Regions from separate parts of the Homo sapiens genome. Here region 1 is linked to region 2. Evidence: fine-mapped expression QTL. Tissue or cell type: lung. Region 2 holds a variant in brackets; the other region holds the start of a gene. All regions are shown on one strand. Distances are from middle to middle.

Region 1 (6,661 bases), 63 kb before region 2:
CCTAGGAATCCAACTTACAAGGGACGTGAAGGACCTCTTCAAGGAGAACTACAAACCACTGCTCAATGAAATAAAAGAGGATACAAACAAATGGAAGAACATTCCATGCTCATGGGTAGGAAGAATATATATCGTGAAAATGTCCATATTGCCCAAGGTAATTTATAGATTCAATGCCATCCCCATCAAGCTACCAATGACTTTCTTCACAGAATTGGAAAAAACTACTTTAAGTTCATATTTTGAGTTTTTAAAGGAACCTTCAAACTGTTCTCTAGAGTGGTTGTACTAATTTGTATTCACACCAACAGTGTACAAGTGTTCCCTTTTCTCCAAATCCTCACCAGCATTTGTTATTGCTTCTCTTTTGGGTATAAGCCATTTTAACTGGAGTAAGATGACATCTCATTGTAGTTTTGATTTGCATTTCTCTGATGATCACTGATATTTAGCACCTTTTCATATGCCTTTTTGCCATTTGTATGTCTTCTTTTGAGAAATGTCTATTGAGATCCCCTGCCAGTTTTTAAATCAGATCATTATATTTTTCCCTATAGAGTTATTCGAGCTCCTTATATATTCTGGTTATTAATCCCTTGTCAGATTGGTAGTTTGCAAATATTTTCTCCTGCTCTGTAGGTTGGCTCTTCACTTTGTTGATTGTTTCCTTGCCATGCAGGAGCTTCTTAACTTGATGTGATCCCATTTGTCACTGTTTGTTTTGGTTGCCTGTGCTTGTGGGGTATTACTCAATAAATCCTTGCCCAGTCAAATGTGCTAGAGAGGTTTCCCAATGTTTTGTTTTTGTTGTTTCATAGTTTGAGGTCTTAGATTTAAATAGTACAATCGCATGGAGAACCGTTTGTAGGTTCCTCAAAAAATTCAAAATAGAGCTACCATATGATCCAGCAATCCCACTCCTGAGTATATACCCAAAAGAAAGGAAATCAGTATATTCAAGAGATATCTGCACTCCCATGTTTACTGCAGCACTATTTACAATAGACAAAATTTGGAAGCAATATAAATGTCCATCAACAGATGAATGGATAAAGAAACTGTGGTACATATACACAATAGAGTGCTACCATCTATAAAGAAGAATGAGATTCTGTCGTTTGCAACAACATGGATGGAACTGAAGGTCATTATGTTAAGTCAAATAAGCCAGACACAGAAAAAAAATTTTGCATATTCTCACTTACTTGTGGGAGCTGAAAATGAAAATAATTGAACTCATGGAGATAGAGAGTAGAAATATGGTTACCAGAGGCTGGGAAGGGTAGTGAGGTGCTGGGGGGAAGTAGGGAGGATTAATGGGTACAAAAATAGAAAGAATGAATAAGACATAGTATTTCTTAGTACAACAGGGTGACTATAGTAAAAATAATAATTTAATTGTGCATTTTAAAATAATGAAGACAGTATGATTGTATTGTTTGTAACACAAAGGATAATTGCTTGAGGCTATGGATACCCCATTTACCCTGATGTGATCTTTATATATTGCAAGCCTGTATCAAAATATCTCTGTAACTCATAAATATATACACCTACTATTTTTCCATAAAAATTACAAATAAAAAATCCTAAAACTCAGCCCTTACAAGATCTGCAGGGGAGACAGAATTTGTAGGTTGATCTCCCAAATTCATCAGGCTTGGAAAGGACCTTAGACTTTCTGCATAACTACATTAGCAAAACCAAACCAATTCTATGGAAATGCCAATATTAATAGAACAAATATTAATACTCCTCAGAGGGAGATAGCAGAGTCTTTACACTATATGATCCCCATTGTCCAATATGCAATAAAAAAATTCAACATGCAAAGAAACAAGAAAATATCACCTATTGTCATAAAATCAGTAGAAACAGACCCAAAAATGTCCAGTTGTTAAACTTCATAGAAAAAGACTAAATCAATTATTATGTATTCAAAGAACAAACAGAAAATAGGTTCAAAGAATGAAAGGAAAATATGATCTTTATAAATGTACAGATAGTGAATTTCAGCAGAGAAATGGAAACTATAAAAATAACCACATGGAAATTTTAGAGCTTAAAAAATTATAGTAACTGAAATTAATAACACACTAGATGGGCTCACATTAGTTTGGAGATGGCTAGCATCAAATGAGCTTGAAGACAGATCAAAAGTAATCATCCAATCTGAAAAAAATGGAACAAAACATGTATCTCTAAACTTTTTAAAGGTGTTGTATTGACTTCTTTTGTATGAGTTTTTTAACATAAGAAAGTAATAACTCTCTTGGTACTTCAAGCTAGACTCACGTTTTCGATTCTCCAGGACACCACCTTTGGGGTTCCCCACTGTAGCTAAAAGGGACCTGGCTATGGTAACATAAATGGGTAATCACCTTGGCAGAAGTGATCTTAACAAAAATTTCACTTACTTCAACTAAAGATTCAGTACCATACAAGCACTGAGAAAACCTCACTCATTCTCTAATGTTCAGCTGAGCAATCACATACTGTTACACATTTGTCTTCTAAAAGTCATACATACATAGCACAGTGCTATGATTAGATACCTGGACTATGGTTATGGAGTGCCTGGATTTAACTTTTGACTCCAGTACTTACTAACTGGGTGACTGTGGGCAGACTACTTAGTTTGTTCATTTGTAATATGGGGATAATAATATTATACACCTAACACATTTGGAGAATTATTGGAGAGGATATATGTAAAGCACTTACAACAGTGCCTGGCACATATGTGTTCATTGTTATCACGTTTCTCCCAGGTTTTTTAAGAATAGAGATTTTCAGGGGTAGAAGAATATTAAAAGAGTGAATCACCTTTAAAACACTGGTGTAAAAAATACCTCATGTCAAAAAATGTTTAAAATGTGCTTTAGATGAAACCTGTTACCTTTCCCCTGCTGATCAACAGAGACATTCCTTTTTGAAAGCTCAGCTTTAGAGATACTGCCTTCTTCTTGAAATAGCTGTCTGCAACAGATAAACATTACTCTGTGCTACTGGGTGTGTTCAATGTGTAAATAGATTGTGGGAATATGAGAGGCTGGTTTTTCAAGTTCCTGCTCCAAGTAGTTCACAAGGGTCAAGTAGTCCAGCATTCTACAGTTTGTGTGTTTGAGAGAAAAATAAGCCCATAAAAACATTCTAACCTTCAGATTAAGGTAAGACTAATGCGTTTAGGGATCTCCAGTGTGATATCTGATTTCTTAATTTCTGTATTTTGTGTGTGGTAGGGGAGTAGTGGGATTTGCTGGTCAGGAAGAAAACAGCTCCTTCCACCATTTGATATTGTATTTTACAGTAAAAAAGGGAGAAATATGTACAGAAGGGACATTTTGGCCATTGGTAGCTATGAGTTTAATGGATTGAGGAGAGAAATATAAGTATCTTTTTGTTATTAACACTTGATTCTATCTATGAAGTGAAGCATTGCACTAGGTTCTACTGAAGAGTGAGTGCCTCCAGGAACAAATATGCATTCTAGTGACATAAAAAAATCAAATTCACAGCAGAAGTGTTGCATCATTTTGCTATAAATCTCTCACACCTCTCTATATAAACCTCTCACATCTCTATATAACATAGATTGTCCTTTTGCTCTGAATTTCTTTCATTTATTAGAAAATTTAGATGTTTCATTTGGAATTATTTAATTGTTTTTACATTCAGTTCCATTTTTGATATGGACAAATATCCAGTATGGATATAAATTCAGTAGAAGGATTAATAAAGTCTGAAAAACCTGGAATAATTTCAACATGAATATGATACTGTAACAGCTTACAGAAATGCGATATTAACTGTGAACATTAATATACTCTGAAAAGATGCATCAGGGTTTAAAAAATTTCTCCTTAATGTAGATTGTTTTAATTACCAATACTGTCTTCCTCATTTAAATGAAAAACGTAATTTTACAACTATTAATATATAACTTCTCTTTGCTCCAAGTATATGTGTATGCCTGGAGAAAAGCATATGCCTGGAGAAAACAGGAGTTATATATTTATAGCATTCAAAATAGTATAAAATATTGTTTACATGTAATAATGCATTTAGAAGTACTACTTCAGTAGTAGCCTCCTTAAAAAGTATTTTAAACACAGGAATTAAGTATATAATTTTTTCATTTTGTAATAAGTTGTTTATATGTTATTTGGACAACAGCTTACACACAAAAGTGTTACAATTCATACCCTAGGTCTTAAATGCATGAAGCCATTTGTTTGGACTCTAGTGAAATCCTTAAATTGGTCCTTGCATCCCTCAGTATATATATGTACATACCCACATATACATGCATATTTACATGTGGGCAACTAATAACTGAGAAAATGTCTTACTGCTCTTTTAGTTGTTGAATCATGCTTTTTCTATGTATTTATGATTTCCTGAAATTCTTTGCTATTTTAAGTTTGGGTATTAGCTATGTTATCCTTCTATTTATTCAGATTTGTTAAAGTCTTCTGATAGGTTTAGTGAATAAAATTATTGAGCTTCTACCTCTTTTCTTTTGGAGGCCCATTTAGTATTTTTGTTGAAATTACTTCCTTATTATTATTTAGTATGTTAAGGGAAGGAAAAGGAAATGTAGCTTTAATATGTAAAATGAGCAGTTCGTTTTACTTAAGCTCTATTATATGATGATGTATCTTATGACTATTTTGCCATCCTGCGTAAGCACTTAGCTAATCATCTTTAATACATTCTACTTAAAATCTACTTGTAAATATGCTTTTGTACATTCATATCTTACTTGTCTGTGGTCTCTCATCCTCTTTCTCTCTCACCCCTCTATATACATTCACACATTTTCCATGATTTCACAAAACTTCTCTCCAACCTCGTTCCATTCCTGGTTATCTCTTTCTGTGGGGAGTATCATCATTTCCTTTGACCTCTGTTTCTCTACATCTTCCATCTTGCTTAGCCCATGGACTTTTGATTTTACTGAAGACAGCAAAAAAGCAGATGGTGCTTCTGTTACTTGCAGAGTTAGCAACCGCTGTGGTTACCTTAGGTTCTGAAAGATTATCTAAAATAGGGAGGAGCTCCTAGAGGAACAAAATATAATAAACATGTAGTGTACTGGGATAAAAAATTCACTTGATCTGGTCTCTCTCTCCTTTTAACAAAAACATTTCTCTAAGAAGTGATTAATAAAACATACCCTACTGCCTCACTTTCTCTTTTAAAATCTTTCTTTCAAATTCCCCTATGACATAAAATCAATCTTCATCACTTTATTGACACTGTACTTCCAAGGGTCACCTGTAGTGCTGCTAGGAAATTCAAGTACATTCATTTATTTATGTATTCATTCATCCATTCAATAAATATTTATTTAGTGACAGCTATGCATCAGGCATTGCTGAGCACTGAAGTTACAGTAGGGAACACTTAAGTCTGCCTTTATATATCTCCAGTCTAGTTAGGAAGGGTGTTAACTCACCCAAATAATTCATTACAAGTGTGATAAGGGCTATAAGGAATACTTTTCCAAATTCTCATTTTATTCATCCCCTTGGCTCTATGTGACACACATGATCAATTCCTACTTCTTAAATTTTCTCTTTCCTTCTTGTCCATGACTCTATACTATTTATTCAACTGCTTTTCTACCACTTCCCTTCTTGTCTATTTTTCCTTTTCTCTTCCTTAAGTTTGGGTTTCCCTCAAAGGTTTAGCATTTATTTAGCCTATAACCTATTACGTTTTGCCTTTCTCTATAACTTCTTATCAACCCTTAGTTTTAAATATCACCTCTAAGTGGATACCTCCAAGACTTCCATTTCCACATCTTATCTTTTCCATCTGCTATACATTTTCCCACTTGTATGTCCAAGGGTCACTCGACATTCATCATGATTGTAGCCAAACTCACAGCTTTTATGTCAAACCACTTCCCCTTTCATTTCATTTGTTTCTGTGAATGGCATTAATGATCTCTTGGTTTCTCACATTTGAAATCTTGGAGTCAATTTTGCTTCTAACTTTTCCTTTGCTCTCAATATCCAAACCACTACCAAGTCCATTCATTTCTTTAATTATAATGTATCTAGAAGCCATCCTCTCTCATCTCCCTTTTCTGTTATTTTTTTCTTTTATTCTCTATTTTCTCATCCTTTTTTCCCTCAGTCTAAGAGCTACCTACAATTCAAGGTTTTGGTCAGGCCCCATCTCCATCAGAAAGTCCACACCTCATGGATATCTTCTTTTTCTAAGCCCCAGAATCATTGGGGTAGTGAAAAGAACATAGCCAAAGAGCCAGGTTTAAGTTTTGATTCTACCATTCACTGCCCCCTGTGCACTCTCTGTGAACCACAGTTTCCTCAGACTCATTCTATCTCATATAGTGGCCACAGGAACAAATATAGTCATGGAGAGGAAATCATTTTGAACTATGAAGAACTATATAGATATTAAAGTAAGATTTGTTGCTGGAAGAATAACTCAGTAGCAGAGACCAAAACCCCAGGTCTTAACTATTGAAATCATATTGTGCAGGGGTTGAGAGTGTTGACTCTGCAGTCAGATGACCTGAGTTTGAATCTCAGCTCTGCTACTTACCAGCTGCATGAAATTGAGAAAACTTAGTTAGCTTTCCTGTTGCTGAGTTTCCTCACTGTCAATTGGGGATAACAATAGTTTC
Region 2 (6,661 bases):
AGTGAGAATTAGAGATACCGTATATAAAGTGACTAGCCTATTACTTGGTGACTGACATGCACTCACTAAGTATTAGTTTCCTGTTCTACCAAGCCTTCTGTCTGCCTCCTGACAAGACGTGACACCTGAGAGGGTGACAAAGGCATAATCTCAACAATCTGTTCTGGTATTTTCTCTGAAATGACAAATGACTCAAGTGCATTATCTGAGTTGAACAAATACAAGACTTATAGTTATTATTCTCCAAGGGTAGCAAGAGGTAATGACTAACAATTCTGGGAAGATCTTATTTGTGTTAGGTGTTGGCAGCTCTAAGCATGCATGGTAAAAGTGATATGGAGGCCCATTTCCTGGAGAATGTAGACTGGATGTGTCCACTTTCTTCTGTCACACATGAAACTGCTGTCAGTATGCTATCTACTCCATCTCACATCCAAAGAACATATCAAAAAAAAAAAAAAGATCTAAGGCCTTGGCATGCCACTATTTAGCAATTTTTAGTCACTGAACTATAGTATTCCCCCTTGTTCTTATTTCTTTTTGTGTACTCTTTGCCTCCTGCAAAAGTTAAAAACTCTTCTTTTTTGTAATAAAACACCAGAGAGCAAATATTTTAGGCTTTGAGAGCTATGTGGTCTACCGCTGCAACCACTTAGCTTTGTAGTTGTAGCACAAAAGCAGCCAAAGACAACACATAAACAATTGAGCATGGATATCTTTCAATAAAACTTTATTTATATGATCAATGAATAAAGGACTCCCTATTTAATAAATGGTGCTGGAATAACTGGCTAGCCACATGCAGAAGAATGAAACTAGACCCCTATTTTTCACTATATACAAAAATTAACTCAAGATTGATTAAATATTTAAGTGTAAGACCTCAAGCTATACAAATTCTAGAAGAAAACCAAGGAAGTATCATTTTGAATATCAGCCTTGGCAAATAATTTATTACTAATTCCTCAAAAGTAATTACAATAAAAACAAAAATTGACAAATGAGACCTAATTAATCTAAAAAATTTTACACAGCAAAAGAAACTAACAGAGCAAACAGACAACCCACAGAATGGGAGAAACTATTTGGAAACTATGCATCCAACAAATGTTTAATATCCATAATCTGTAATAAAGTTAACAAGCAAAGAAGCAAATAATCCCATTTAAAAGTGGGCAAAGGACATGAACAGACCCATCTCAAAAGAAGATATACAAGGAGCTAACAAGCATATGAAAAAAATATTCATCACTAATCATCAGAGAAATGCAAATCAGAAGCACAATGAAATACCATCTCACACCAGTCAGATGGTTATTATTAAAAAGTCAAAAAATTACAGATGCTGGTGAGTCGTGGAGAAAAGGAAATGCTTATACATTGTTGGTGGGAATGTAAATTTGTTCAGCCACTGTGGAAAACAGTTTGGAGATTTCTCAAAGAACTAAAAACAAAACTATTATACCATTCAACCCAGCAATCCCATTACTGGGTATATACCCAAAGGAGAAAAAAGTCATTGTACAAAAGCACATATACTTATATATTCACAGCTACACTATTCACAAAAGCAAAGATATTGACTTAACCTAGGTGCCCATCAACAGTAGATTGGATCAAGAAATTGTGGTACATATACAACATGGAATACTATGCAGTCATAAAAATAATGAAATCATATCTTTTGCAGCAACATTGATGCAGCTGGAGGCCATTATCCTAAGCGAATTAATGCAGGAATAGAAAACCAAATACTGCATGTCCTAACTTATAAGTAGGAGCTAAACATTGGGTACATATGGAGATAAAGATGGCAACAATAGATACTGTGGACTCCTGGGGGTGGGGGCAAGGGTTGAAAAACTACCTATTGGATACTATGTTCAGTACCTAGGCAACGGGATCGTTTATACCCCAACCCTCAGCCTCACACAATATACCCACGTAACAAACCTGTACATGTACCCTATTAATCTAAAATAAAAGTTGAAATTATTTTTTAGAAGACCCTATTTATAGACCCTGAAATTTGAATTTCATATACTTTTCACATGTCATTAAGTATTTTTATTTTGATTTTTTTCAACCATTTAAAAATGTAACAATCATTTCTAGCTTGCAGGCTGTACAAAATAGATGATGGGGTGAATTTGACCCATGGGCCATAGTGTGCCTACCTTTTCCCTTTTGTTTCTGAATTTTCCTTATTCATCTTCTTACAACCTATGCAATTTCCTGAGTTGAATATTAGAACAAATATATTTCTATGTTAACTTATCATAGTAGTTTTCTATTGCCACCTTAACTATTACTACAGCTTAGCAGTTTAAAACAATGCAAATGTATTATTTCACAGTTTTGGAGCTCAAACGAGTTTGACTCGTTTCTCTACTCCAGGTTCTGTAAGGCTGAAATCAAGGTGTTGGCTAGTTGAGTTCTTTTTTCTATAAAGAGATTCTGGGAAGAATCCACTTCCAAGTTCATTCTTGTGGACAGAATCCAGTTCCTTGTGGCTGTCAGAATGAGGTGCTCATTTCCTTGTTGACTGTTCACGGAAAGCCATTCTTAGCTCATAGAGGTCTCACTTTCCAGTCATTGCCTGTGGACCTCTACACCTCAGAGCTTTCTCAGCACATAAAATCTTTCTCATATTTGCAATCTGACTTTCCATTCTGCATTGTCTTTACTGACTTCCTCTTCTTCCTTTGTGTTTAAGGGCTTATGTGATTGCTTTGGGCCCATGTGGATAATCTAGGATAATCTCACTATTTTAAGGTCAGCTAATTAGTAACCTAATTCCATCTGTAATGTCTGATCACATCAGCACCTGGATTAGTGTTTGACTGAATAGCCAAGAAACAGGAGACATCTTTCGAATTTAGAATACCACAATTGTCACCTGGATTTCCAACACTGTGATACATAAGTCTATAGATCACTTGAAATGTATCCAGAAATAACTTAACCCATTCAAGCTTTTGGTTTTGGTAGGTTATATCTTAGATTTGACCGTATTCCATAAGCGT[A/G]TTTTATATAGTTACTGTTATGGAGCTTATCCAATAGTCTGGGCTTCTCAATAGGTAATATAACCACTTGGGAGTAAATCTATGGTAGACAAACTATGGTCTTACCTTTCAATGAATACTTTTCTCCAAGGTTAACATTTTCACTTTTTGCCAGTAGTGGAATGGTGTTTCATATATAATTTACCTTTGCCTCAGATTCCGAAGCAGATTTCAGGATAATTGCTGAACAAGCAGATTTCAGGATAATTGGGGAAGAAGGTTGACATATTTTTCAAGAGTGACTTTTCTATTTGAGATCCAGCTATTGATTTTCAAGTCCAATAAGTTGCTGAATCAAATGGATATAATATTCTGGGGCTTGAAATGCCTATTTGACTCTCAGTTGCTTTTCCTCAGCCACCATATCAGACATGTCACCAATTCTTACTGATTCTCATTCTCAGTGGGCCAAGTGTATGTGTCTTTCCCTTTACTCCTCACCTCCATGATACCCTGATTTGCATCTTCATCATTTTCTATCCTCTTTATTGTTTAACTTTCTAATTTGCCTGCCTACCTCTGGTTTCTCTCTTCTTCATATATTTAGCCAGAGATTATGTGATTCAATCTGAACTTTAGAAAAACTGCTAGAATGACATTCCACCTCTTTACCTCAGCATTCAAATATTTGACCCCAAATCCTACCTTTTAACTCCAGTTTTCAATAGAATTCTCCACAAATCCTTTACCGTAGTTACATAGTCCTATTTACTATTTTCAGAACATGCCCATAGAGGTTTTGGGACAATAGTGCTCACCTAATCAGCTAAAGCCATTTCTTAATTTTTAATTAGAAATATATTTAGTCTACCGAATGACTTCTACAGCTGTTAAAATCCTTGTGATATGCCAGAAAAGGACTTTTATAGCAGCATAACTACTATAGGTTGAATTCCAGGTATTCTAATTCATTCCACAAATATTTCCTGAGTGCCAGTTACTGCTCCTGGAAATGGTGAACAACACAGCCAAGGTCCCTGCCCTCATTTCACTGATGATAATAAGAACTATGAGAATATGAAAAGAAGGGTAATGTGTTAAAATTATGAGAGAGTAGTCATTCATTTGAAAAACATTAATTGAGATCGTGGTCTGTGAAAGACTTTCTTGTAGGTACTATGGAAAACAAAAGATGAAGCAGACAGAAATCAGTTCTCAGAGCATTTACAACCCAGTCGAAATGAGAGGGTAGAAATAATACTGAAGGACGCTATAAGTAATGGGAGAAGTACAGACAAAGAAGAGGATTATAAGCATTTCAGGAGGGAAGATGGGGGTGATTTCATGTAGCCATTGCAGGTAGGGTTTAAAAGATGGGTGTGACTATTCAAGGATCCTTCTTTCCCATCTTTAACATTGAACTTATTACCAAATCCAGGCAAGCACTTCCACCACCTATGATCTGAATTTATTACTCCTCTTTTAGTCTTACCATTGCCCTAGCATGGGTGCCATCATCTGTCTCCTGGACTATTACAATGGCCAACCTGTCTCTTTATCCTATTCTCTCATCAGTCTAACCCACTGTACATGTTATATCAAAGAATCTTTTCATCACAGAGATCTGATCATAAGTCTGATCACAGAGTCTGATCATGACCTCTTTTTCATTCCAAACCTTTACTTGATCCCTATTGCTTGCATTGAAGATCACTTATCCACTAATGCAGTGGTTAAGAACTTGAGCCCCAGGTCAGACTTATTGGGATGGGATCCTGGCTCTGCTACTTACCAGCTGTGTGATATGAGGCACATTATTTTATTGCTCTAAGTCCCAATTTCCTCATCTATAACATTAGGATAATAGTGTTTACATAAGGTTGCTATGTGGATAAAAATATATGAAGTATGAACCGTAATTAGCAAGTACCTAGCAGATAGTAAACATTCAATTAATACTGGCTATTATTATCACCATAAAATACTCCAGAGATTGAGATAAACTTTATAAATAATTTGCTGTTTTCAGTTTATTAGGGATTTTTGAGAGTTAATTATGTGGCTAAATAATTGAATTTCAATGCTCTTCCCTTTTCCCTTGAGTAGGCAGCTAAGGATTATAACTGGTGAGTGGTTTTTTGAAGAAAAGGCAAAACGTTTCAAGCAAGTCAATGTTCTCGGCACTGATGTTGTCCGACAGTCCATTTTAAGAAGAAGTCCAGGTAATTAAAGCAATTATGTGGTTTCACAACTGTTTTCATCTCCATTTGGCTAACTAAATAACTTCTCTATGTTATGTAGTTAATCAGCATAAATGAGTTTCTTGAATCCCTTAGGGCATTTCACAACTTGGTAGCATGAAATCTAGATACGTAATTCATACAAGACAAGAAGAAGTCAGTAGAAAACAAAATTCACAATGATTTTCCATATATCTCACCCACTAAGATTTTCAAAGAAACCATTTGTCTCCATCATAGACAGTTCTCTTTCTGAATGCATCCAATATTTTACTAAACACTTAAAGTAACATAAAACAGATGAATTAAATGATTCACATTGTGAAAGCAATCCTTGATTTTTCAACAATATTTATTTCCGATTTCCTTTCAATGTTACTTTTTAAATCCAGTGGTTCTCAATCAAAGATTGATAATATGTACCTTGTCTCCCTCCCTCAAAATGGGAGCATTTGGAAAGGCAAGGGGGGCATTTCTGGTTGTCACAGTGACTGGTGAGTCAATGGCATTTGGTGGGAAGGAGCCAGAGATGCTAAATGGCTTGAAATGCATAGTCTTACTGAATGAATACTGGCACCAAATGAAAATAACACTTTACCTTGACAGTGCCTTTTGGTGCATTCAAATTACAATTTAGTTAATTAAAGATGGAGTAAACCTTGTGATTGGGAGCATGTTTCTCGTATATGGTGTAGTAAAAGCGGAAGAAACATCTTTCAGCCTGTTTCTAGGCTTATCTCATCTTTCATCCAGAGGAGACAAGTGCCCTTGTATTTAAGTCTGGCACATATGGCGAGAAGGCTTGGAACTGATTCCAGTGGTACTTCTGGGTGTGGCACTAGCAAGGAAAGGCTTTTCCACATAGGTCACACAGATCCGATACTACAGAGAGATGGTGTGGAGTACAGTTAGAATTAGGCAATCAGCCATGGCCTCTTCTTCCACTCAAACCCCAGTACCTTCCAGAATGTAGGCAGTTCCTCAAGTCACAATATATTTGCACAGATGCCCACCCTCCCAGGAAGTGTGGCTTATATGCCCAGAAATTAGGACATCATTTCTACAACCTCATGCTAGAACTCAGTCTCCAGGGATTTGGAGATCTTAGGAGACCATGTTCCCCTGCTCTAAAAATATCAACAGAAGGCTGATGCAGTCATCCCTAGGAAGGTTATCTCAGTAAACCTCCCACAGATGAGTTCAGGATCTTTGTCTTCAGTTAACTCTAGAACACTCAACAAATTAGAACTAACTGTGTGACAGAAAAACTTGGGATGGGAATGGCATTGCCAATTATTATAGACTTCCTTGCCCTGAGCTAATCTGGGAAAGTGAAAGCAGAATATAAATTTGCTCTCATTTCTGGCCATTTTGTATGTAAATTTCTCTTCTGATTGTTTGTTAATGAGGAGCTGA

Evidence for each region. PIP is the estimated chance that this variant, and not a neighbour inherited with it, causes the effect. A credible set is the group of variants that fine-mapping cannot tell apart.
Region 1: it holds the start of SYTL5, and the variant in region 2 is the best candidate, but not a certain one, in a credible set for the expression of SYTL5 in lung (TOPMed, PIP 0.72).

The regions. Positions count from the first base shown.
Region 1 is chrX:38,003,499-38,010,159 of GRCh38, forward strand. SYTL5 (synaptotagmin like 5) reads left to right here and starts at 3,055. Exons shown (of 17, transcript NM_138780.3): 1 at 3,055-3,170.
Region 2 is chrX:38,066,936-38,073,596 of GRCh38, forward strand. SYTL5 (synaptotagmin like 5) reads left to right here. Exons shown (of 17, transcript NM_138780.3): 4 at 5,112-5,227; 5 at 6,655-6,661. Among named protein-coding and RNA genes, the nearest start is that of MIR548AJ2, 46 kb to the left of the region's middle. The variant A/G (reference allele first, on the strand shown) is at 3,027.